4 separate regions of the Homo sapiens genome follow, and regions 2, 3 and 4 are each linked to region 1. The links come from fine-mapping of genetic effects on gene expression. A gene starts in region 1. Each other region holds a variant in brackets. All regions are shown on one strand. Distances are from middle to middle. Region 1 holds the start of SLC2A11 (solute carrier family 2 member 11). Region 2 has its middle 5.2 kb from the start of GGT5. Region 3 has its middle 28 kb from the start of LINC02556. Region 4 overlaps SLC2A11 (solute carrier family 2 member 11).

What was found.
Region 2: its variant is fine-mapped to the expression of SLC2A11 in spinal cord (GTEx, PIP above 0.99).
Region 3: its variant is fine-mapped to the expression of SLC2A11 in thyroid (GTEx, PIP 0.96).
Region 4: its variant is fine-mapped to the expression of SLC2A11 in whole blood (TOPMed, PIP above 0.99). The same link has a PIP of 0.9 or more in cerebellum and cerebral cortex.

Annotation. Positions count from the first base shown.
Region 1 is chr22:23,855,394-23,860,541 of GRCh38, forward strand. It overlaps SLC2A11 (solute carrier family 2 member 11), which reads left to right and starts at 2,482. Exons shown (of 12, transcript NM_001024939.4): 1 at 2,482-2,636. The coding sequence starts at 2,607.
Region 2 is chr22:24,247,693-24,252,840 of GRCh38, forward strand. It overlaps the pseudogene GGTLC4P and the pseudogene POM121L9P. Among named protein-coding and RNA genes, the nearest start is that of GGT5, 5.2 kb to the left of the region's middle. RefSeq lists a silencer at 1-183 and enhancers at 93-1,081, 3,889-4,389. The variant G/A (reference allele first, on the strand shown) is at 2,896.
Region 3 is chr22:23,351,787-23,356,934 of GRCh38, forward strand. No RefSeq gene overlaps it. Among named protein-coding and RNA genes, the nearest start is that of LINC02556, 28 kb to the left of the region's middle. The variant A/T (reference allele first, on the strand shown) is at 2,491.
Region 4 is chr22:23,881,983-23,887,130 of GRCh38, forward strand. It overlaps SLC2A11 (solute carrier family 2 member 11), which reads left to right. Exons shown (of 12, transcript NM_001024939.4): 7 at 477-664; 8 at 777-887; 9 at 1,790-1,891; 10 at 1,967-2,042; 11 at 2,320-2,447; 12 at 2,667-4,330. The coding sequence ends at 2,867. Among named protein-coding and RNA genes, the nearest start is that of MIF, 9.8 kb to the right of the region's middle. The variant G/A (reference allele first, on the strand shown) is at 2,721.

The sequences.
Region 1 (5,148 bases):
CGGGAGGGAGGTGGGGGGGGTCAGCCCCCCTTCCGGCCGGCCGCCCCGTCCGGGAGGTGAGGGGCGCCTCTGCCCGGCCGCCCCTACTGGGAAGTGAGGACCCCTCTGCCCGGCCAGCCGCCCCGTCCGGGAGGGAGGTGGGGGGGACAGCCCCCCGCCCAGCCAGCCGCCCTATCCAGGAGGTGAGGGGCGCCTCTGCCCGGCCGTCCCTACTGGGAAGTGAGGAGCCCCTCTGCCTGGCCAGCCGCCCCGTCCGGGAGGGTGGTGGGGGGGTCAGCCCCCCGCCCGGCCAGCCGCCCCATCCGGGAGGTGAGGGGCGCTTCTGCCCGGCCGCCCCTACTGGGAAGTGAGGAGCCCCTCTGCCCGGCCACGACCCCGTCTGGGAGGTGTGCCCAGCGGCTCATTGGGGATGGGCCATGATGACAATGGCGGTTTTGTGGAATAGAAAGGCGGGAAGGGTGGGGAAAAAATTGAGAAATCGGATGGTTGCCGGGTCTCTGTGGATAGAAGTAGACATGGGAGACTTTTCATTTTGTTCTGTACTAAGAAAAATTCTTCTGCCTTGGGATCCTGTTGATCTGTGACCTTATCCCCAACCCTGTGCTCTCTGAAACATGTGCTGTGTCCACTCAGGGTTAAATGGATTAAGGGCGGTGCAAGATGTGCTTTGTTAAACAGATGCTTGAAGGCAGCATGCTCGTTAAGAGTCATCACCACTCCCTAATCTTAAGTACCCAGGGACACAAACACTGCGGAAGGCCAAGGCCGCAGGGTCCTCTGCCTAGGAAAACCAGAGACCTTTGTTCACTTGTTTATCTGCTGACCTTCCCTCCACTATTGTCCTATGACCCTGCCAAATCCCCCTCTGCGAGAAACACCCAAGAATGATCAATAAAAAAAAAATAAATAAATTAAAAAAAAAAAAGAAAAAAATTAACCTATCAAAATAAAATATCAGCAGTTGAAACTAACAATGTATTAATAACAATAATATTATGACCAAGTTGCGTCTACCCCAAGAATTCAAGAATGGTTTACCATTAGAAAGTTTATTGATGTAACTGATCTCATTAACAGATTAAAGGAGAATACCCATATGATCATCTTAATAGATGCACGAAAAGCATGCAATAAAATACCTATTTATTATAACTGCTAATATTTTGTGTTTTTCCTTAAAAATGCAGTGTTTTTAGGAATTAAAGTTCAGAGCAGCAAAAGTCAAACAAAAACCAAGTCTGAGCAATAGAGCTACTACAGTGCCCATCACAGTGTCTGCTCAGGTGACTTCTTAAGGTCATGTCCAGCTCTATGTTTCTGTGACCACAAATAGCATCTTTGGCAAGTCTAGTTTCAGTTGGTCTTTGTCCAGCTCCTGGATTCCTCCATGCAGGGCCTGAGAAGCCCTGAGGGATAAAAGATTAATCCGGTTCAGTGGACTCTGTGGTTCCTCAACTCCAAGTGCCCCCAGCATAAGTCGGACCTGCCTCTCACGCAATGGATCCCCTGGCGGCAACCCGAGACCGGTTCTCCTACCCGCATTCCGCCAAGTCTCTCGCTCTGCCCAGGACGCACAGATGAGAGCGCTCCGAAGACTGGTGGGTCTATCTTTCGGTCTTTCCTAATTTTCCCGTCCTCTGGGGAAAGGTCGGGGATACCTGAACCAAAGTGTGTGTGTGTGGGGGGGGGGGGGTGTAGGTGGGGCGTGCATAGATGTGCACAACCAAGGGCTTGGCCCTCCGGAGAACGCCCAGGGGCAGTGGCCTCCGAGGTTCTGGCGGCCGGCAGTGGCGACCGGCGCAGGGAATCGCGCAGGGTTGCGGCTGAGGTCAGACCAGCGAGAGACAGAGACCCGCAGACATTTAGTCCAGAGACTGTAGCAAAGGAGGGGGACGAGGGGCCAGAGCCGGAATTTCGGGGGAGGACTTGGGAGCGCGGCGACCAGAGTCGCTTGCTGGCACTTGCGAGGGCGAATGCAGGGGCTTGGCCGAGATGACCTTGGACCAGAGCTCCCTTCCGGCCTGCAGAGATGAGCTTGGGGCTTAGCCGAGTAAGGAGTGAGCGGCTTTTCAGCCTCAGTGCTGCGGCAGAGGCGGATGGAGGATGAACTGGAGCCGTCCTTACGGCCTCGGACGCAGGTGAGCTCCCAGCGGCGGCGACAAACCCCGCGGCGGTGACCCCAAACCCCCCCCCCGCGGCGGCGACTCCCCCCCAACACGCTGGGGCGAACTCCCCAGCACCCCCAGCCCTTCTTAAAAACGCTGAGTCCGCGCATGCGCCTCAGGCGCCCTCCGCGACACTCTAGCGGCTCTGCGCTTCACTGCGCCTGAGCTTGAGTCTCAGGCCTTAGTCCCGGCCATCGTTTAGCGTTGCGCGAACCCTCAGCTGGTGCGGCCGCTCTCAATACCCACTGCGCTTGCGCTACAGCTTCGTCTCGACGGGTTTGCTCCTCTCAAACGCTCACTGCGCGTGCGCTAGCGCCTCTTTCACCACTGGGCGCTGCGCGCTGCCCTTCCCTCCGCGCACAGGCTGCCGGCTCACCGCTTGCTAATGGCAGCCGGGGTCTCCCTGGGACAGCAAGACCTCCGCTCAGGCCCCTCTTTCGAATGCTCCACGCCCTCCTGCGATCTAGAATGGTATGAATTCTCATACTTGCCCAGACCAGGCGTTTCAGATGAGGGATTGCGGACCTGAGTGAACTGCGCAGGTGCAGCCACCTGGGAGGCTTAACTAAGTCGTCAAATGTTCAAAAATATCGTGCTTGTATGTACAGTGGCGTTAGGTGCTAGGCTCAGATGTGCATAGGCAGGTGTTTACGCCCAGGGTCGGCCTGTGGGCCAGAGCAAGGTTGCTGGACCCTGGCATCCCAGCCCCCAGAGATGCTAAATCCTCTGCCGATCAGCCCTGACCTCAGAGGCAGTAAGCCCTCCGAGCGCTGCAATCCTGACTGCTCGCCCCCTCCCGAGACTGTTTCCCACCCCCGCCTCTTTCCTCCTCATGCTCCCTCAGCTCTGACCTGACGTCCTGCCTCACAGAGGGAAAGGGCGCAGCCAGAGGAGAGCGCCCGCACTGCACTGCCCACCGCTTCTAGGGGTTCCTTCCCAATCTGGACTGATTTCTTTAGGTATTTGCATGGCACATTCCCTCACCTCCTTTGTCTTGATTTGCACTTGTATTCCTTGACAGCCTTATTTAAAATAGCACCAACTAAGGTGGGAGGATCGCCCAGGAGTTCGAAGCTGCAGGGATCTAATAGGATCTCACCACTGCACTCCAGCGTGGGCGACGTAGCGAGACCTTGTCTCTAAAAAATAAAAATAAAATAAAATAAAATAAAATAGCACCACCTGGTCCAAACACTTCCTACGCCCCTTCACTGCTTTAAGTCTCTGTAGCACCAGCTGATGTACTATATATTTTGCTTGTTCATTTTGCGATTGCTTGTCTTTCTCTGCTGGAAGGAAAGCTCTGACAGCTCATGGATTTTGTCTGTTGTTCACTGCTGTATCCCAACACCTAGAACAGTAGGATTATTGACCATAATAGGGAGGCAATAAATCTTTGTTTGCTGAATTAATGGTCCCTATCGTAGCTAATGTCTGAATGCTTACCATGACCAGGCACGGTATAGGCAATCTCCATGCATGATCTCATTGAATTCAACGATTTCCTGTAGTCTTAGAGACCTGTCAATATCTCCTGCTACATGAGCTCAGCTGCCATCAAGCACTGTGTTCGCTGCTTCCTTCACATCTGCTGTCTTAAGGGAGCTCTCACTTCCATGCGGCCCCCGTGGAGCTGTAATTTGGCCTCAATGGGACCAGATGCCAGGTTTCTCACCTGGCTTCTTCCTAAGGCTTCCAGCCTTAGAGAAAGTTACTTAGGCCTTATTGGAACTATGGGCAGCCAGGGCCCCTGTCACCAACCTGTCTCCAGACCTATGGCAAGGCCTTCAGCAGGATTCTGCCCTCCAGAGCCACTTCCTCTGCTCCCCCAGCCTCCAGTGCAGTATCTCACTGAATGGTGAAAGCACAGCTGTCTCTTTCCCAGCTGTATCTTGCCCCCCAGCACACTTCCTGGCTGAGATAAACATTCAGCATTTTTTTTTTTTTGAGATGGAGTCTCACTCTGTTGCCCAGGCAGGAGGGCAGTGGCGCGATCTGGGCTTACTGCAACCTCCGCCTCCCTCCCGGATTCAAGCAATTCTGCCTCAGCCTTCTGAGTAGCTGGGATTACAGGTGCCCACCACCAAGCCCGGCTAATTTTTGTATTTTTAGTAGAGACAGGGTTTTACCATGTTGGCCAGGCTGGTCTCGAACTCCTGACCTCAAGTGGTCTGCCCACCTCGGCCTCCCAAAGTGCAGGGATTGCAGGTGTGGGCCACGACATCCGGCCAACACTCAGTATTTGACTAATAAATGAATAAATAGTCCGTAGGTTCTGGAAACTTCAGAAAACCTTAGCCAAACATCCTTCTGTCATGAAAATTGTATCAAAGTTTTCAAAAATAATACATTTAATTCTACAGAACAATTTGCCAGAACAAGAAAGGCAGTATTTTTTGGGGGAAGATATCAACGATTCAATTTTTGTAAAGTCAACTACTTTGCAAATATCTAGGAAAATACCTGAGGGAAGGAGTTAATTGTTGTGCCTTTGGAGGAGTGGAGAACTTTCAGTATATACTGAATTTTCAAAAATCTTAACAAACGTGTCATTTTGTAATTAAAAATCACAAAAGAGTGGGCTGGGTATGGTGGCTCACGCCTGTAATCCTACCACTTTGGGAGGCCAAGGCGAGTGTATCGCTTGAGCTCAGGAGTTTGAAACCAGCCTGGGCAATATGGTGAAATCCCATCTCTACAAAAAAATTAGCCCAGCATGATGGTGTGTGCCTGTAGTCCCAGCTACTTGGGGGGCTGAGGTGGGAGGATCGCTTGAGCCCAGGAGGTTGAGGCTGCAGTGAATCAAGATTGCGACACTGCACTCCAGCCTGGGTGACAAAATGAGACCTTGTCTCAAAAAACAAAACAGAAAATCACCAAAGGAGAAAGATAAATACTTCTGTGAATCCCTAAGACGACCTCAACTACAGGTCGGGTGCGGTGGCTCACGTCTGTAATCTCAGCAATTTGGAGGCTGAGGTGG
Region 2 (5,148 bases), 390 kb after region 1:
CATCAGCTGGCCACTCTCTGCCTAAGAAAGGGCCGGGGTCGCTGCACCCTCTGGTGGCTGGTCCTAGGTGGTGTTGCTGCCCAGCCCAGGGAAGGGAGGGCCTGGCCCCAAGTCTGAGGGATCAGGGTGGGAAGGGGCAGGGCTTGGCATGGACCTTCCCCTGGCCCCCAGCCACGTGCCTGGCTTTCCCCATGCTGAAGATGCTGAGGCTAGTTCCAGCGACCGCAGCGTGAAGATCTCCGAATCCCGCCTCTCCAGTGCCTCATTTATTGTGCTGCTCTGCTGCTCACAGGGGAAGCCGGTCCCCCAGAGTCCCCTTCCTGGTCCTAGTGAGTATCTTGTCCCTAGATTGCTTGTCAGCCTTGTCCGCCTGGAGCACTCAGTAGCCAGCAGGCTCCCCGCCTTTCCTGGAGTCCGAGGCAGCTGCCCAGCCACCAGCCGTGTGGACGATGGCTTGCACCACAGCGATGAAAGTGGATGCGATCTGGGTGTGATGGTGCCGGGTCTCCAGGGCTGCAGTCACTGCCTGGGGGTGGGAGGAGAGGGGAAGCCTGAGCAAGGCTCCAGATGCCACCTGAACCACATCTGTGTGGTCACAGGCCTCAGCCCAGGTGGTGCCATTTCGGGCCAGGTCATCAGGAAGAGCAGGTTGGGGCCTGCTGGGTCTCACTGGAGCAGGGGGTTTGGCCTTCATGTCACAGGGGCTCCAGATGGCCCAGGCACTAGAGAGAGGACACCAACCATTGTCCACTCTGTGATGATCCAGGCCTCCAGCCCAGGATGCCCTGGGGCCCCACACCGTGACTCAGTTTCTCCAACCCCCGGCCCACCTGGTCAATGTTTCTCTCCACTGTCGTGACGTTGGGCAGAAGCTGGTTGTGCAGCCGGGGCTCCTCCACGGCCCGCTTCACGTCATAGCCGAACCAGAGGTTGTAGATGATGGCCTGGGGCATGGGAGTGTGATCAGCGTGGCTTGGGGGCTGTGCAGGGTGGGCACGGCCAGGGAGAAAAGCTGTGACACATATCAGTGCAGTGGCTGTGGTGATCTGTGTGCCCCCAGCAGCTCCCACAACCATCCGGACCTGGCCGTCCTGGCCCACCATGATCGTCGGGCACATGGACGAGAGCGGCTGCTTCCCTATGGCCGATGGGAGAAGACAGGGATGCCCGTCAGCTGCCTGCCCAGGACACCCGCCCCTCTCCACCCCAGTCCCCCACCCCCGGACCTCCACCCCATACCTGGCTGGATGAAATTGGCAGGTGAGGGGGCACCCCAAACTCGTTGGTGATGTTGGGAGAGCTGAAGTCGTCCATTTCATCATTGAACAGGATCCCGCTGACCGGGGAGCGGACCTTGGAGCCAAAGCTACCGCCCAGCCAGGTCAGACAGTGCCCGACCTTGCCTGGCCCAGCCTGGTCCCTATCCACCCACTGAGGCTCAAACATACTCACTGAGAGGCCCAGGATAAGCTACCAAGGTTGGGCCTCAGTTTCCCACCAGGAAAAGAGGTGACGGAGCCACCTTACTGGATAAGTGGGCAGTCCCTGGGCCACCCGCCCCTGGCCCTTTCCCACCCAGGCGGCCCAGCAGCCCCTACTAGAGGTTGATGGTGCTGGTGGTGGACACAGCACTGCCGTCTTCTGCGACGACAGACAGGTGAGCAGTGCCCCCATCAACTGGCGTGTAGAACTCGGGCTTGTAGTAGGAGATCGGGTGAGTGGTGTCGTCAGAGATCTGGGCCCGGAGCTGGGCAGCGAAGAACTCAGAGGTCATGTTGCGGACCACCTGCCGAGACCCCAGAGCTGGCCTGAGGAGGTGGGGAGGGAGGGTGGGGAGGGGGCACAGGTCTCAAAAGGCCCCTGACTGTGGCTCTGATCACAACCCTCTGGCACCCACAACCTTCCGTGGCTCCCCAGGACCCAAGGGCAGGCCCAGGATCTTGCAAGACCAGTCTGACTCCCTGTCTCTGTCGCGTTCCAGCAACTCTGAATGTCTGTCTGCCTGGTCCTCAGCCTCCAGACCCTTGCTGCATTCAATCACTCATTCCTTCATGCAAAAAATATTTCTAGAGTTTGCACTGCATGCCTGGCACTGGGGAATCAACAGGGAACAGACACTTAGGTCCTGCCCTCATGCCAAGAAAAACAAACACACACAGGGAAAGTGCTGAAACCACAAGCCAGGTAAGGGGAATCAAGAGGCATGAGGTATGGGCAGAGTGGTCAGGGAGGGCTTCTCAGAGGAGGCAACGTGTGAAAAGAGCCTGGAATGTGGCCTAAATGGTCAGTGCAAAGGCCCTGAGGCAGGTGGTATAGGCTGGTGAGCGATAGGCAAAGAGTGAATGGAGTGGGGTGGGGAGAAGAGGATGAAGATGCAGGCTGGGGCCCATCCCACAAGACCTCCTAGGTCCCATAACAACTGGCTTTTGCTCTGTGCCATGCAGGCTTAGGGCAGAGGAATGAGCAGGCTGGGGAGTGTTTTCACAGGGTCCCTCTGGCAGCTATGACGGGGATAAGGATAAAGCCCAAAGGGGAGGCTGTGGGTATCAACCAGGCAAGAGATGATGGCCTGGGTGGGAGAAAGAGAAGAATCAAGGATGGTGCCGACTAGCGAGGTAAACCCTGCAGAAAGGGCAGGTTTGGGGATGGTCAGGAGCTTGATTCTGGATACTTCATCAGACCTGAAGAGCATGGGTGCACGTATAAAAAAATAAATAAATAAGCATGGGTTCACGGGCAAGGGCGGGCTGAGAGATGAACATGGAGGTATTGACATTGAGTGGCTGCTGGATGCCATGAGCCTGGCCAAGGTCCCCAAGGCAGTGGCGAGGAGGAGATGAGGAGGTCAAGGAGGAGACAGAGGATGGACCCGAAGGCCGAAGAAAATGCCTCAAG[G/A]GAGTTTCAACACCGGGCGCGGTGGCTCACGCCTGTAATCCCAGCACTTTGGGAGGGGGATCACGACGTCAGGAGATGGAGATCATCCTGGCTAACACGGTGAAACCCCGTCTCTACTAAAAATACAAAACATTAGCCGGGTGTGGTGGCGGGCGCCTGCAGTCCCAACTACTCCAGAGGCTGAGGCAGGAGAATGGCGTGAACCCGGTAGGCGGAGCTTGCGGTGAGCTGAGATCAGGCCACTGGAATCCAGCCTGGGCGATAGAGGGAGACTCCATCTCAAAAAAAAAAAAAAAAAAAGAGAGAGAGTCTGGCTCTGTTGCCCAGGCTGGAGTGCAGTGGCGCGATCTCGGCGCATCACAATCCCTTCCCCGCCCGCCCCCGGGTTCAAGTGATTCTCCTGTCTCAGCCGCCGGAGCAGCTGGGACTACAGGCGCGTGCCACCATGTCTGACTAAATTTGTATTTTTACTAGAGACGGGGTTTCACTATGTTGGCCAGGCTGGTCTCCAACTCCTGATCTCGTGATCCGTCTGCCCCGACCTCCCAAAGTGCTAGGATTATAGGCATAAGCCACCACGCCCGGCCTCTTTTTTTTCTTTTTCTTTTTTTTATCTGGAGACTGAGTTTTGCACTTGTTGCCCAGGCTGGAGTGCAATGGTGCGATCTCAGCTCACTGCAATCTCCACCTCAGCAGGAGAGCAGGAATCTTCAGTGATCCACGGGCAGATCTGCCACCATTGTGGGCACCTGTTCCTCCCGCAACCTTTGTGCCCGCCTCTCTCCTTCCAGTACCTATTGCATGACCCCCCACGTCCGCCTCCCGCCATTGCCAGCAAGTGCCTCGCGCGGGTACCTGGCTGCGCTTATTAATCCGTTAAGCTCGCTCTGTCACGGGCGCCGTGATGTGCTCACGCGCCCACTCCCTCAGGTTTAAAAGGCGCGTTGCCCGGCAACAGAAGAAACTGCTGGCTTAGCCTTTGGCGGAGTTGGCGGCTGGACGAGGACGCTCAGAGCCCAGCTCTCGAGAGTTCAAGCAACCGACGGTTCCCCACTGCTCCCAGGAGCGGTTACCTGGGCACTCTGTGCCCCTCCTTCCTGTTCGGGCCCAGGCCGAGGACCTGCCAGTAGGGCTCAGTTGCCTGGAGCCCGTTCAGCCCATCCCCCAGTTCACTTTGCCTGTGGGATCTCCCCGTTGCTCCTGCCCGTGGACTGAGTGGCAGGCCATCCTACAAGCACCCGGACACTTGACATCAGTGGTGTCAAGACAACTCTAAGAAGGTTTTCCGTGATCCTGCAAGCCCTGCGTTCCTTCCTGGGATCCTGCCTTCAATTTGATTGCACAGGTACCACAGCAAGCCAGTGCTGTGTGCTCCGAGTTCCAGGGCGTCCTCCAGCTCAGCCACTGCACTGAGAACATGGACTCTCTGTGGGGCCCAGGAGCCGGGAGTCACCCCTTTGGGGTCCACAACACCCGGCTGTCCCCAGACTTGTGTCCAGGGAAGATAGTGTTGAGGGCCCTCAAGGAGAGCGGGGCAGGGATGCCTGAGCAGGACAAGGACCCTAGAGTCCAAGAGAATCCTGGTGATCAGAGAAGGGTCCCCGAGGTCACCGGGGATGCACCGTCTGCATTTCGGCCCCTGCGGGACAATGGAGGCCTCTCTCCCTTTGTGCCCGGGCCCGGGCCTCTGCAGACAGACCTCCATGCCCAGAGGTCAGAAATCAGATATAACCCGACATCCCAGACCTCCTGGACGAGCTCCTGCACCAACCGAAATGCCATCTCCAGCTCCTACAGCTCCACGGGAGGCTTGCCGGGGCTAAAGCGGAGGAGGGGGCCAGCCTCATCCCACTGCCAGCTGACCCTCAGTTCCTCAAAGACAGTGAGTGAGGACAGGCCTCAGGCTGTCTCTTCAGGTCACACCCAGTGTGAAAAGGCAGCAGATATAGCACCAGGGCAGACACTCACCCTCAGGAATGACTCCTCCACATCCGAGGCCTCTAGGCCCAGTACACACAAGTTTCCCCTGCTGCCACGCAGGCGAGGGGAGCCTTTGATGCTGCCACCTCCCTTAGAGCTGGGGTACCGGGTCACTGTTGAAGACCTGGACCGGGAGAAGGAGGCGGCCTTCCAGCGCATCAACAGTGCACTGCAGGTTGAGGACAAGGCCATCTCGGACTGCAGACCCTCACGGCCTTCCCACACTTTGTCCTCACTTGCAACAGGGGCTTCTGGTCTGCCTGCCGTTTCTAA
Region 3 (5,148 bases), 500 kb before region 1:
GAGCTCAAAGGGGAGAGGTGCACTCCCCATGGGCATAAGTGGGGGATACCTATACCCAAACTTTCACAGGTACCTAGTACCCCTAAACCCAGGGAGTCTTTTCTGTCTATTCTGATTGCATAGGTGCATGATGGTGTCTTTCTCTCCATTAGTTAACGTTTACTTTCTCGGTTCTAAAACTAGTTCTCGGCCAGGCACAGTGGCTCACGCCTGTAATCCCAGCACTTTGGGAGGCCGAGGCAGGCAGATCACGAGGTCAAGAGATCGAGACCATCCTGGCTAACATGGTGAAACCCTGTCTCTACTAAAAATAAATTAGCTGGGCATGGTGGCGGGTGCCTGTAGTCCCAGCTACTTGGGAGGCTGAGGCAGGAGAATTGCTTGAACCTAGGAGGCAGAGGTTGCAGTGAGCCGAGGTTGTGCCATTGCACTGCAGCCTGGTAACAGAGCGAGACTCCATCTCAAAAAAGCTGGCCTTCCAGTGTCCAAAATGCTGTCATCTCTTCTTCCACAGTTTGTCTATGTGGGTTTGTAGCTTTAAAAACTTTATTTCATGGTTTTTTTTTTTTAAGGATAATTGGCGGGGGGAAATAAAAAATTTTGGATCCCTCTTCTTTCACAGGAAGTGGTGAACGATTTTTCATTTACACAAACATTTAAAAACAATTTTTTCTACCTTTTGACAGCTACATTGCTTCCCATAGTGTAATACTCAATAAATTATTTAACCATCTACTATTGTTAGCCATTCAAATCATTTCCTATTTTATACTATTGTCAACTTCACTGAGGTGACCATCTGATACATGTATCTTTGGGTTCATTCAGAATTATTCCTAGAGAATAGTGCTTTAAAGTAAAGGTTTTATTATTATTTAGGTATGGCAGGGCCAACAGATCAGATGTCAGCCATTGAAAAAGCAATTTGGGCCGGGTACGGTGGTTCACGCCTGTAATCCCAGCACTTTGGGAGGCCGAGGTGGATGGATTACCTGAGGTCAGGAGTTTGAGACCAGCCTGACCAACATGGTGAAACCCTGTCTCTACTAAAAATACAAAAAAAATAGCTGGGCATGGTGGTGGGTGCCTGTAATCCCAGCTACTTGGGAGGCTGAGAAAGGAGAATTGCTTGAACCTGGGAGATGGAGGTTGCAGTGAGCTGAGATCGTGCTAGTGCACTCCAGCCTGGGCAAGAAGAGTGAAACTCTATCTAAAACAAAAGAAAAGAAAAGAAAGAAGAAAGAAAAGAAAAGAGTAGTTTGTTACTTGCAAATCCCAAGACAAGGGGACACTCCATGCCATGGGAGCAAGAGGCTGCACAGAGAATGCTGCAGTCTGTCAGAAGGTGGTGGGGATGGGGGATGTTGCAAGAGGTGTTGCTGTGGTTTCCATAGGAAGGAAGAGGTAAGGCAAGGTGAGCAGGTTCAGGATTGGTTAGTTCAAACAATTTCAGTGGGCTCTGTGGCATCGGGGCTGTTCCATCTGGTACCTAGCCCTGGTGTGATTAGGGTGTGAGGCTATTAGTCCAGAGTGGGAGAGCCCCATAAAGGAGGTGGTTGGGGATGTGGGCTCTGGATTGGTGAGTTTGTATATGAAAGGCACACTAAGAGACAAGTGGCTTATTTCTAGGAATTGGCTAAACCTGGGAGGAGCACCCTCCAGGAGCAGCAAAGCCCTGGATGTTAAAGTATCAGAAAGGAGACAATAAAGAACATGGTTAGTAAAAAATAGCTAGGGCAAAAGAGATGCCCCTTTGAAATGTTAGGATAGATTTTGCCAAATTGCCCCCAAGAAAGCTTGAACTAATTGATCTCTCACATCAATGGTGAAAGTTCCTGGTTTTCTATATTCTTGCCACTAGGCACTACCACTGAAAGAATAGTGGTAAAGATCCTTGCAAATTCAATAGGTGCCATTTGGATATCTGGTTTGAATTTGCGTGTCTTGGTGTGCATGCTACTGATCTGTGAAAATGGTATTTTGTGGATGTGAAGACCCCTTGGAGCCTGGCTGGTGGGATGGAGAGGACTGTGGACTGTACCCACCCTGATGTGCTCCTGGCCTCCATGGAAGGACAGCTATGTGGGAAGTTTCAGAAGGGCTACAACTTCCCCACCCCAGCTGTGACCCAGCCCACAAAGGATTCTAGAGATTTAGTCCCTTGCATGACCTTCTAAAGTGAGAACATAGGGCCAGCATCAGTAGCTCCTGGGATTTGGGTAGACCTTTCTACAGTCCAGCTTTTTGGAGAAGCTTAATGTCATTTATGCTTGCTGAGTCCTGTGTAAGCCCCAAAGCCAAGCTTTTGCAAGCATAGGACTTAGGCACCTTTAAAAAGGAGTTGTTTACCTTCTACCCTCCTGAAGAGTGTGTAGGAGTTTCCCTTTGAGAATAACCACTGGTCCCTTCAGATGGCTTGGCTGCTTCTGCCAGGCTCTACTTTTGGAAATGCCCTTCATCGTGTCAGTCTCAGAATTAAAGACTTTCAGC[A/T]TCTCCTCCCCATTGTCCAGGGATGAAGTCTGTTCTCCTTAGCTTGGCATTGAAGCTCTCTGTCTTCCATTCACCCTTCCAGTCCAACTGGCCTCCCCAAGAAGCCCCTGAATCTGCCTTGTACCAATGTTAATTTCTTCTCTGCCTCTCCAAATTTTGCCCATGTCTCAATACCCGGTACCATCAAGAGACATCACAGTTTTGGGCATTGAGATATATGAACACTGACAGTTCTCAGGGCAAGAAAACACACAGCACATGCCTCTCTATGGAGGCCACTCTATTCACCTGGATGCTTACAATGTAATCTATAGTTTGAATTTACAGGGCTCTTTCCAGATTATAATTCAATCTTAACTTCTCTGAGTCTAAATTTTTACATTGCTTTCTGAATCATCTTTGTTACCATTTTATTCTTAACAGGCTAAAGGAAGGGTTAATAGAGTAGTGCTAACAAATAGGATCTGGGTTTATAATCAGGCTTTTGTGATTTGAATCAAAGAAACACAAAAACTTAGTGTTTATCAGAGTGTAGTGCACTTATTCCTGGAGTTATGCGAGATCATTTTAGATGGCATAGAAACTATAAAGCACTTATAGAATGGATGTGTATTTATTTTGCTGTGCATTAGGAAAAAAAAAACACCTTACTATCGAGTCCATGGTTTAATGGATATTACCTGTGGCAAGGATTGCTGGCAATCTGTTAAAATCTGTCCCACCTTCCTTGGTACACGGCCAGATTACATTTTCCAGCCTTGGTTGCAATTAGATTGACCACGTGAATAAGTTCTCACCAATGGACTCTGAGTGGGAGTGAAGAGTGCCACAGCCAGGCCTGGCCCATACAAATGCTCCATGGTCACACTTCTGCTCCTGCCTGTTCCAGGTGATGGGGAATTGACACCTATGGCAACTTTAGAAACCATGAGTTAAGGATGGCAAAGACACCGTAGTCTAGATTAGGAGTGAGTAAACTAGAGCCTAAGGGCCAAATCTGGCCCACTGTCTTTTTAAAAATAAAGTTTTATTGAAGAACAGCCATGCCTGTTTGCATAGGTATTGTTTAAGGGCTACCTTCACTACCACAGCAGTTGTCACAGACAGCCCATGGCCTGCAAAGCCCGAAGTACGTACTATCTGGCCCTTTTATAGGGAAAGTTTGCTGACACCTTAATTTCAATCTCTGAATGACCATATGGAGGACAGCCACCTTATTGACCTGAACAACATTCTAGTCCTTTACCTAAGCGAAAAATAAGCCATTGAAATTCTGGGCCTATTTGCTACCATAGTCTACCCTGCTCTCACTAATAAGTCTTGCTCAGCAGTCTCAGGGTGATTGCCTGATGAATGTACATGACCCGACTTCCAGTTGTTTGAGCCAATGAGGCTGACTAGTTATGCCCACGGGAGTACAGGTCTCTTCTCTACGACCCACCACCAGGCCAAAATTTCCTCTAGATGCTCTGACCAGTCAGTCCTAGGACCTGATTGACTCCAGGGAGTCTGACCCCCTAAGTATAACACAACATCATGGGCCTGGGAAGGTATAAACATAATACAACTCCTGCCCAATGAACTGAATGTTAACAGGAAGATGTTCCCTGAAGCTCAAGGAAATGACTTTGGTGACAATGACCCTTGCCAGAGCCAATGCCTTGTCACCTACCTGGTGGTCATGATGGCGATCAAGGGTGTCCCTGCTTTCATGTAACTAACTTGCCTTCAATGGTTCGCTTTTCCCATTAAGTGACTTTTTTTCAGTTATATACTTTTGTAAACTAGAAGTGTTTTTACTGTCATTTCTTTATGTACTTTTTATTTTTACCATCAATTTAATTTAAAAAACTGCACTCACACATTTTCCATGCATACCTCTAATTATTGCAGGTTATACAGGTCTTGCACTTATGGAAATGGTATAAAGTCTCCTTTTTGAGTGAACATGTTGAAGTAAAAAGAGTTACTTCATTTAAAGAAAACTGCTCATAGAAGTACAGATGATACGCTGATAAGGCAAAAAACCACGATATTAGTATGAGAATAACTGAGGTTCCAGAAACACTGCATATGCCTAGGCTGCGGTGGAGAATGTCATAGAATCCTGGATTCATAGAGTGCAGAGCCACAGTGAAGGGTGCTTGAGAGAGCCCCTCCCCCAGAGCAACCCCGTCTTTCCACAAGGAATCCCCAAATGTCACCCAGTGGATTCTCAGACTTCTGTCTTCCAGTTCAGTGTTCTCCACCACAAAATCTACACCTGATCAATCCCATGGTTCACAGACAAAGCTGAGTAAGGGGCCCAGTAGGACATGGGCTTGCTGTGGCCCAATGCCTGCTCTAATATGTGCTTTCCATATATCTGCTGGGGTAAATTGATGGAGGTGGAGAGGTTTGGGGGAGTTCATTTGAAGCCCCCAGATATGCCCACTCTCCCAAGTCCTACCCAACTGCTTAGAAGTTAAGGCCAGTTCCTAGGATTTTACTCTGCACATCATGTAATTCCACATGGGAAACCAGAGGGTGTTCCCCAGAAAAAAGCAATAACCCCAACCAACTGCCACTTAAACAAGAGACATACTGCTTACAGCTGAAGTGGTGCCAGAGGTGTTACACGTATTAAACAAAAATGAGATCTATTGTGAGGCTTGGTAT
Region 4 (5,148 bases), 27 kb after region 1:
GAGAGATTGAGAGAGACAGAGGCAGAGAGAGAGAGAAACACACACACAGACACAGAGACAGAGAGATTGAGAGGCAGAGAGAGAAACACACACACACACAGAGACACACACAGAGACAGAGAGATTGAGAAAGACAGGCAGAGAGAGAGAGAAACACACACACACAGACACAGAGACAGAGAGATTGAGAGAGACAGAGGCAGAGAGAGAGAGAAACACACACACACACACAGACACAGAGACAGAGAGATTGAGAGGCAGAGAGAGAAACACACACACACACAGAGACACACACAGAGACAGAGAGATTGAGAGAGACAGAGGCAGAGAGAGAGACACACACACACACAGACAGACTCAGAGACAGAGAGTGAGCCAAGAAGGAAAGGAATGGTGGGATGGAGGGGGGCGTCCCTGTAGGGGGACCAAAGAGGGGCTTGGGGACGGGGAGCTCAGTACCCTCCTCCCTGGCTCAGCACTACGGCGGCTCCGGGGCTCCGGGGACTTGGCAGGGGAGCTGGAGGAGCTGGAGGAGGAGCGCGCTGCCTGCCAGGGCTGCCGTGCCCGGCGCCCATGGGAGCTGTTCCAGCATCGGGCCCTGAGGAGACAGGTGACAAGCCTCGTGGTTCTGGGCAGTGCCATGGAGCTCTGCGGGAATGACTCGGTGAGACCCCTGCCCCGCCGCACACCCTGGGCCCCGGGGGCTTGGTGTTGCAGGCCGCTGGGAGCCATGGGAGGTGGAAGGGAGCCCAGGCCTGAAAGCCACCCTCTCCCAGGTGTACGCCTACGCCTCCTCCGTGTTCCGGAAGGCAGGAGTGCCGGAAGCGAAGATCCAGTACGCGATCATCGGGACTGGGAGCTGCGAGCTGCTCACGGCGGTTGTTAGTGTGAGTCTGGAGGGTGCCCTTCCTCCACCAGCCCTGTGGGGAGGGACCCCCAGGTCCTCTGCATTAAACCAGTTTACACTCCAGCTTATGGTGTTAAAATGCAGTGAGGGGCCAGGTGCGGTGGCTCATGCCTGTAAGCCCAGCACTTTGGGAGGCCGAGGTGGGTGGATCACAAGGTCAGGAGTTCGAGACCAGCCTGGCCAACACAGTGAAACCCCCGTCTCTACTAAAAAATACAAAAAATTATCCCGGCGTGGTGGCGGGCGCCTGTAATCCCAGGTACTTGGGAGGCTGAGGCAGGAGAATCGCATGAACCCAGTAGGTGGAGGTTGCAGTGAGCCGAGATGGTGCCATTGCACTCCAGCCCAGGCAATAGTGCTGAGGTGGGATCAGGAGTTGGAGACCAGCCTGGGCAACATGGTGAAACCCCGTCTCTACAAAAAATACAAAAATTAGCCAGGCGTGGTGGTCTTCGCCTGTAGTGCTAGCTACTGGCGAGGCTGAGGTGGGAGGATCACTTGAGCCTAGGAGGTTGAGACTGCAGTAAACCGAGATTGTGCCACTGCACTCCAGCGTGGGCTGGACCAGTGAGACCCTGTCTCAGCTCAGTGAGACCAGTAAGACCCTGTCTCAATCAATCAATCAATGCAGTGAGTTAGAGAGCATCTATTGAGCATCTACGGTTTGCGGGTCACTTCCAGCACCATTTTGAGATGCGGAAACTGGCTGAAGTTGGGTGATTGATTGACCAAGTTCCTTTGGGAAATTAATAAAGTCACACTGAAGCAATAAACTACCCTCACCTCCACCACCAGCTTTCTCAGGAGACCCCTTCCCATTGCCTGCCCCAGACCTCAGGGACCATGGCTGGGTGTGTGGGTCTGTGCTTTCTGCCTTTGCAGTGTGTGGTAATCGAGAGGGTGGGTCGGCGCGTGCTGCTCATCGGTGGGTACAGCCTGATGACCTGCTGGGGGAGCATCTTCACTGTGGCCCTGTGCCTGCAGGTAGCTGGGGTGGATGAGGGCTGGGGGGTCCAGGCCGGGCTGACTTCCACCTCACCCCCGCCCCGTCCACGGCAGAGCTCCTTCCCCTGGACACTCTACCTGGCCATGGCCTGCATCTTTGCCTTCATCCTCAGCTTTGGCATTGGCCCTGGTGAGTGGGCCCAAGGGGCTCTGGGCATCCATCATCACATAGAAGGAGTGATGGGTGCCTGGGTGCACAGTGGGTGGGTGTGAATGCAATGTCCCCTGCAGGCCCTCAGAGACCACCTCATGCCGGGGCTTCTGGGAGGGAATGGCAGGAGGAGAGCACTGAGGGGCCCCCCATACAGACTGGGCCTGGGCTCCCACTCCCATGTCTGGGCTGGGGTCGGGGAGAGGCAGGCAGGGAACCCTGGCCAGCAGCCCCCTGTCCCTGCCCCTCCTTCTAGCCGGAGTGACGGGGATCCTGGCCACAGAGCTGTTTGACCAGATGGCCAGGCCTGCTGCCTGCATGGTCTGCGGGGCGCTCATGTGGATCATGCTCATCCTGGTCGGCCTGGGATTTCCCTTTATCATGGTAGGCCCGCCCCTCCCGCTGGGGGCCCTGCCTTAGGCTGTGTCCCTGTCATCCTGAGAACCCCAGGGGGAGGCTTCCATCCAGGGAGACTGAGACTGAAAGGGAGGGGTCTTAGGGGAGCAAAGAGGGGGGCAAATGCCTCCTCACGACCTGTCATGGGCCTTCTGTTTAGGGGTTGATGGAGACACACCAGGTCTTGGGGTCTTTTTTAATCCGCAGGAGGCCTTGTCCCACTTCCTCTATGTCCCTTTCCTTGGTGTCTGTGTCTGTGGG[G/A]CCATCTACACTGGCCTGTTCCTTCCTGAGACCAAAGGCAAGACCTTCCAAGAGATCTCCAAGGAATTACACAGACTCAACTTCCCCAGGCGGGCCCAGGGCCCCACGTGGAGGAGCCTGGAGGTTATCCAGTCAACAGAACTCTAGTCCCAAAGGGGTGGCCAGAGCCAAAGCCAGCTACTGTCCTGTCCTCTGCTTCCTGCCAGGGCCCTGGTCCTCACTCCCTCCTGCATTCCTCATTTAAGGAGTGTTTATTGAGCACCCTTTGTGTGCAGACATGGCTCCAGGTGCTTAGCAATCAATGGTGAGCGTGGTATTCCAGGCTAAAGGTAATTAACTGACAGAAAATCAGTAACAACATAATTACAGGCTGGTTGTGGCAGCTCATGACTGTAATCCCAGCACTTTGGGAGGCCAAGGTGGGAGGATCAATTGAGGCCAGAGTTTGAAACCAGCCTAGGTAACATAGTGAGACCCCCTATCTCTACAAAAAATTTTAAACATTAGCTGGGCATGGTGGTATGTGCTAACAGCTCTAGCTACTCAGGAGGCTGAGGCAGCAGGATCACTTGAGTCCAAGAGTTCAAGGTAGCAGTAAGCTACAATCACACCACTGCATGCCAGACTGGGTGACAGAGGGAGACTTCATCTCTTTAAAACATAATAATAATAATTACAGACTCAGGAAATGCAGTGAAAGAAAAATACAGGTTGGCCAGGTGAGGTGGCTGATGCCTGTAATCCCAGCACTTTGGGAGGCCAAGATGGGAAGATTGCTTTGAGACCAGAAGTTTGAGACCAGCCTGGGCCACATAGTAAGATCCTGTTTCTACCAAAAAAAAAAAAAAAAAAAATTAGCTGGGTGTGGTGGTACATGCCTGTGGTCCCAGCTACTCAGGAGGCTGAAATGGGAGGATCACTTGAGCCTGGGAGGTCGAGGCTGCAGTGAGTCCTAATTGAGCCACTGCACTCCAGCCTGGACAACAGAAAGAGACCATGTTTCAAAAAAAATAAATACAGGTTGTAGTGGGTATGGGTATGCATACCAGGAGGCCCGACCTCGTCTGAGAGGGGAGTGGTCAGAAAAGAATTTTCTGAGGAATTGATGTTTTTAATCAACTTTATTGAGGTATAATTTATACATAACCAACTGCATCCATTTTAAGTATATATTTGGCGAGTTTTGAGTTCTAAGTATAGTTTTGGTGAGTGTATACACTTGGGAAACACCACCGTGATCAAGATGGAACCTTTACCCTACCCCAAGGCACCCACATGCCCATTTGCTATCAGTAACCCACCCCAGTCCCAGACCTGGGGAACCACTGACCTGCTTTCTGCCTCAATTGGTCAGATTTGCCTTTTTTCAGAATCTGAAGTCATTCCGTACTGTATGTACACATTTGTGTCTGGCTTGGCTCCAGATAAAGTTTTTGGGATTCATGAATGTTGTTGCACGTATTAGGAGAGACTCCTTTGTATTGCTGAGTAGTATTCCCCTCTGTGGTTAGACCATGATTTATTTATCCATCTACCTGTTGGTGAACATTTTGGCTGTTTCTAATTCTTGGCCATCATGAATAAAACTGCTGTGAATGTTCCTACAATAATAATTGTCTAAACATATGTTTTTATTTCTTTTGTGTCTTAGTCCGTCGGGCTGCTATAACTAAGAACCACAGCCTGGGTGGCTTATAAACAACAGAAATTTATTTTTCATGGTTCTGGAGGCTGGGAAGTCCAAGATCAAGGTGCCAGTGGATTCAGTGTCTGTTGAGGGCCCATGTCTTGATTCATAGATGGCGGTCTTCTTGCTGTGTTCTCCTAGACATGGCAGAAGGGGCAAGGGAGCTCTCTGGGGTCTCTTTTATAAGGGCACCAATCCCATTCATGCAGGCTCTGCCCTCATGACCTAATCACCTCCGAGGAGGCCCAAAGGCCCTACCTCCAAGTACCATCATATGAGGGATTAGGTTTCAAGGTATGAACCTGGGGAGGACATAAACAGTCAGTCTAGCTTTTTGGGTAAATGAATTGCTGGGCTTAATAATAAATGTATATTTAACTGTATAAAAATTGTTTTCCAAAGTGGTTGATTATATTGTTTCACATTCTCATTAATAATGTATGAGTTCTGGATACTCCAGATCCTCATCAGCACTTGGTATTGTCAGTCTCTTCAATTTAGCCATTCTAGTGAGTGTGTAGTGGTATCTTGTCATTTAATTGTGGTATTTCCCTAATGACTAATAATGTTTGACATCTTTTCATGTGCTCAGTATGGCCATTTGTGGGTTTTCTTTTATGAATAATTTGTTCAAATATTTTGTCTACTTTTTTTTGTTGTTGTTGTTGAGACAGGGTTCTCTGTCGCCCAGGCTGGAGGGCAGTGGAATGAACTCAGCTCATTGCAACCTCTGCCTCCTGG